Linked DNA regions of Homo sapiens: region 1 is linked to region 2. Evidence: fine-mapped expression QTL. Tissue or cell type: lung. Region 2 holds a variant in brackets; the other region holds the start of a gene. All regions are shown on one strand. Distances are between the middles of the regions.

What was found. PIP is the estimated chance that this variant, and not a neighbour inherited with it, causes the effect.
Region 1: LINC01081 starts here. The variant in region 2 is fine-mapped to the expression of LINC01081 in lung (TOPMed, PIP 0.98). The same link has a PIP of 0.9 or more in sigmoid colon.

Annotation. Positions count from the first base shown.
Region 1 is chr16:86,285,070-86,287,895 of GRCh38, reverse strand. It overlaps LINC01081 (long intergenic non-protein coding RNA 1081), which reads left to right and starts at 1,649. Exons shown (of 6, transcript NR_104139.1): 1 at 1,649-1,842. It overlaps LINC02135 (long intergenic non-protein coding RNA 2135), which reads right to left and starts at 1,465. Exons shown (of 3, transcript NR_038438.1): 1 at 1,347-1,465. RefSeq lists an enhancer at 2,060-2,745.
Region 2 is chr16:86,224,487-86,226,986 of GRCh38, reverse strand. LINC01081 (long intergenic non-protein coding RNA 1081) reads left to right here. Exons shown (of 6, transcript NR_104139.1): 4 at 210-347; 5 at 1,025-1,140; 6 at 1,320-1,407. Among named protein-coding and RNA genes, the nearest start is that of LINC01082, 30 kb to the right of the region's middle. The variant T/G (reference allele first, on the strand shown) is at 1,557.

The DNA.
Region 1 (2,826 bases), 61 kb before region 2:
ACCTTTACAAGGTGATCTTCAGCGTTCAACAAACTTTGCTTCTCTGGCCACCTCCTTAATCAACTGCAGCCTTTTTCTATTTCTAGCCTGAAACAAACTCCACAAACACTGGCTCTTTCTTCATCTTCCTCCCTTTCCAATGATAATACTGGACAAAAATGGGACAATCTGTAATTTTTGCCCATTTTCTTAGGAATTTTTCCCCTCTAGTTAAAAATCAATCAATCAATCACACACACACACACACACACACACACACGCACGCACGCACGCACGCACACCATGAATTGAGTCAGGGTTCCCTCTGATCATCCCCACCGCGCTCTTCCTTTTGTCTGAAAGGGGCTGGGCAATGATAATTGTGCTTCTGGGGTGAGAGGTGTGGTGTGGGGGGATTCGCAGCAGAGGCTGCGGCAGCTGGTGGGGGGTCCTCCTTCCTGGTCCTCCGATGACTCCGACGACGACGAGGAGCTCTGAAGGGAGACCAGGAGGCGTCTCCACTGACCATGGGGCCCAGCAGCGCGGGGCCCGGGGCCAGCCCCGACCTTCCCCTCCACCAGCGGACGGACCCACAGCCTGAAGGCGGCTGGCACCAGAGGGGCCCCGGCAGGAGCCGATGGGCTGCGAGCGCGCTGGCGAGGGGCGCAGGAGAATGGAACGGGGACAGGGGAGAGGCAGAAGGAGGAGGAGAGGGAAGCCTGGAGAAGAGGAGAGCGCAGAACTGAGGAGCGGGGCAGAAAACAGAGGGAGAGTTGCAGACCGGGCTGAGCTGCAGCGGAGCGCGGGAGTGAGCGGCGGCGGGAAAGCTGGGGTTAGGGGGCCAGGACGTCGCGGGCGAGGGGCGGTGGTGAGTGCAGCCCAAGGGCGCACCGTCCCTGCAACAGCTTCGCGGGCGGGAACAGCAGGAAGGAGTGAGCCTTGGGCGGGCGGTGGGTTTCAGAGGAGGGAGGGCCGAGCAGCTGCAGGGGACAGAGGGGCAGAAAGACAGGGAGGCGGGGAGAAGGTAGGGAGCGGTTCTGGGTAACTACTTCGCTTCGGAAACCGCCCGGGTCTCAGGCCCCAAGGGCATCCCCCTCCTCCCAGATCCCCGTCTTGGGTCCCTGGACCCAAGTCCCGTGGAAGGCGACACCCGCGTCCCAGACCGCCGCGGCGGCTGCTGCCCCCACACGTCTGGTTCGGCTGGCTCTCCCCTGCGAGGGTCGGGGTTTCTGGAGCCCTGCGCACTGGGCTCCCCTTGCCCGCAGCGCCCCTGCGGCCCCTCCTCCCGCTGGCCTGGGATCCCGGAGACGCAGGACGACCTCGGTGCGCGAAGGGGCGGGGGGCGCGTGGGGTCCCTGGGGGCACACCTGCTCACTCATCCCTTCCCGTCTGAGGTCTTCGCTGATGCCAGCTTCACAGGCACGGGCATCAAGGCCCTGAGACGGGAGAAAGGGTAGGCCTCGCAGGTGCACGTGGGAGAGGCTGCACCTAAGCCCCCGCACCAGCCCTGGACCACCAGGGCGCAGGGCCCGAGGTGCGTGACAAAGGGGTGACCTCACCTGTAACAAGTGAACAAGCGTTGACACCCGCGCAGGCTCCAGTGTTCCAACGGCGGAGTCATATGAATCATCCTGATGCTTAATAAACAGATCCCAGAAGGAGCCTGGACATATTAGATCAGAACTTCCCAGGGAGCGGCCCAGGGATCTGGATTTCCAGTGCATGCCCTGCGGTGACCCTCACTCCAGAAAGCTCAGGCCCCACTGAGCTCCAGTGTTCTATCTCCAGACATGGATTACACCCGGGGCTACACAGCGAGACAGCGAACCTGTGCTGGGTCACCAGGTTGAGGGTGGTGGTGAGGTTAGTCTCAAAGCCCAGCCTAGTGGGGCTTCATGGCTCTGTTTTAGCCAAGGGGCTCTTGGATTGTCCCCGGAGGGGTCAAGGGTCTTTCCGCTGTCCTATTCAAAGTGTTTTAGGGTGAAATAATCATGATAATAGTCACAGCACCTGCTACGAATGAAGCAGGCGCTTATAGTCTAGAGAGCTACGGACTTTTGTGAATATTCTGTTTTAATCCTCACAATTGACCTTGGGAGGAAGGTACTATTTATCATCGCACTTCACTGATATGCAAACTGAGGTGCGACCAGGTTATTTTATTTTCTCCAAGTCCTGAAATGGTGCGCTGGGGCTCCCCAGCTCTACCCACAGGTACCTGCCTCCCTCCGGAAGGTGTGGACAGCACAGTGGTGGGCGGCCCAGCCCGGAGGGGGGACTTTGTGCTTCCATAGGAAGGGGTCTCAGAGCCTAGCATCTGGGTGTCCACCCAGGAAGGTGGGTGGGGCACAAGGTGGTCTCTGTTGTCCCTGCAGCTTCTGGGAACCCAGATGAAAGGCAGGAGTGTGGAGCACAGACCTGGGGTCTCTGTAGAATGTGCTGGAGGGTACCAGGAGCTAAAACTATGTGGAGCTGGGTGGGCCCAATAGAGGAGAAGGGAATAGGGGAGGGAGATTCATGAACTAAGTCCAGAGGTGGGGGATGGGAAGGGGAGGAAAGAGCTGATGGCTTTGGAACAGTGCTACTGAGAGAGGCAGGCACTGGGTCTCGGCACCACAGCGTGCCTTTGGTGGTCTCAGGTTCCATACAGGAACCCTGAAACGAAACAGGGAATGCCCTAAAGTGGCACCTCATATACTCTCCAGGTTTCTGGCAGCTCAGCAGTTGGGCTGGGGGTGCTTTCCTGTGCCCAATCCCTGGCACCCTTCCCACACCACCCCCACCCCCATAATGCAGCAGCAGAGAACCTCCATCTCACCGATGGGGGAACTGAGGCCCAAAGAGGTT
Region 2 (2,500 bases):
CAGCTTGGGTCTAATCCCTCTCCTGGGATCTGGGCCTCACCTGCCTGCAGCTAAGCAGTAAAGGAGCTGAGATTCGAAAGCAGGGAGTCTGGGCTCCTACAGGAGTGGTGAGAAAGGGTGGCATGATGGGAAGGCTGGGTCACCCACTACAGATAGAGCCAAACATGCCTAGAGTGTGCCCACCCCTTTCCATCCCTACCCCATTGCAGGTGCAGGTGGAGACGGAACCCTAGACACTGCTCATCCCAATCAGGCCCTTTCCAGGCCTGTCCCATTCCAATCGGGCATCAGATGTGGCATTGATCATCATCTACTTAACAAACGAGGCTCCCCTTTCAATGCACTTGGTGAGTTCACAGGCTACAGGTGGGCAATCCACAGGACCCCCTTGCCTCCCCTCCTGGCCTTCCCCCCTACCACCCCCAATATCAAGTGCAGCTGTGGGTTTTTGTGCTAATGAGCATTACAATGTGGTCAGCTTTTCATCTTATTGTTTCTTCTGATGACTGGAGATTTACCTCATGCAGAAGAGAGTGGAATACTGAGGGTGGGTGCCCCAACTCCCTAAAGCCCTGCTCTGCACTGATGGCCGGAGGTGGGCTAGAAACCAACTGGTTCGGCTGGAGAAGAGGAAGCAACTCATGGACAAGGGTCCCCTTGGGGGGTGGGTCCTTTGGAGAAGGGCCCACAAGGTGTAGAAAGAGCACAGTCCCCAGTCACTGAGCAGCACCATGTGCCCTGGGAAGACACCTCTCAACCCGCCAGCCCCAGGGCTTGCCCTCCTCCTGGGAGAGACTGACAAGTGCTGAAGCTGCCAAGCAATCACAGACAGAGCCAAAGAGCCAAGATATCAGAGGCCTGAGATGATAATGGAGTTGGATTCCTGGAACTAGTCTATCCCAACACCACTTATTGTTTCACCAATCCATTCATTTACTCAAAGAATTACTCATTCAAAATATAAAAGCATTCCATTTTGGTTTCAGAAGAAAAATTACTCATTCATTCAACAAACATTCCACAGGGTCTCCTCTGGGCCAACCTTGGTTCTGAGATAGCAGGTGCTGAAATACTGCTGAATCCTCAAAGCCAGACTAGCCAGTGCCTGGCACCTGATGGGAATATGATTTCAACGAACAGGTGGGTGGATGAATGGATGGATGGATGGACAAATGGGTGGAAGGGTGGATGAATAAATGGGTGAATGGGTGGTGGTGGGTGGGTGGATGACCCTCACCTCCTCACAGAAAGTAATCTTTGCTGTGTTCACATAAAATCCACACAACAATCTCTCTCTCTTTTTCTCTCTCTCTGGAAAGAAATGAAGAGACCACCCAGAAATACAGACCCAGCCTTTCATTCTCTTATATTCCTTATGTCCAACATTTATTGGGCCCTTACCATGTGCTCCATATGGTGCTGGGTCCTGGGAGTTGGAGTTACAAACAACTAAGATGACAGACTTTGCTCCAAGTAGGGATTCTTGGCTCTCAGCCCCATGGAGAAAGTCTCCTTATCACCTTTCTGCACAGGGGAGGAAATCGAGATCAAAAAAG[T/G]TAAGAGACTGAGTTAAGGCCACTCCATCAGCTGCCCCAAAGCCCCTGTGTCTGCTCTGGCTGGCACTCTGAGGTCCCACTGCTGACAAGAGTGGAGTAAGAGGAAAAAGAGGTGATGTGCAATTGTGTGAGGAGTTCTTACCACTCAGGGATTCAGAGGCTGAAGGAAGGTGAGGGCTGGAAGGTCCAGGGAAGGCTTTAAGGAGAAAGAGAGAGGCAGGTAGTGGGAATGAGGTGGGGTGCTGTAAGCTCTAAAGGTCAGAGAGGATGAAAGGGAGTGACCCTTGGTCAGACCAGAGGCTGAGCCACCTTCAAATGCGATTGGCCCTAGCATCAGGTCTGCATTCCCCTCCCCTGCCCTTTATCCTTACCACCATTACCACCACCACCAACATCATCATCATCAACAACACCAATAACAACACCATCACCACCAACACCAACAACTTTATCACTACTAACTACAATAATATCAACATCATTAATATCAACATCATCATCACCAACATTGCCATCATCAACACCAATACAACACCATCACCAACACCAATAACACCATCACCCTCAACACCAACAACACCATCACTACCAATAACATCACCAGCACCAACACCAGCACAACAACACTATCATCACCAACAGCAACACCGTCACTACCAAAAACAACAGCAACACCAACACCATCACCATCACTACCAACACACCAACAGTACCAACAACACTAACACACCAACACCATCACCATCACCAACAACAGCAACACCAATGGTAACAGCAACAATAACAGTCATAAGAGCTAAATACATTTGACCCTGACCATGTGTAGAGCACTGAGCTGAGAGTTTTAAGTGCATTATTTTGTTTGAGTCTCCCGAAGGAGAACCGTGAGAGGGGTACTGCTGTGACAGACACCCCCATTTTGGAGATGAGGAACTGAGTTGTAG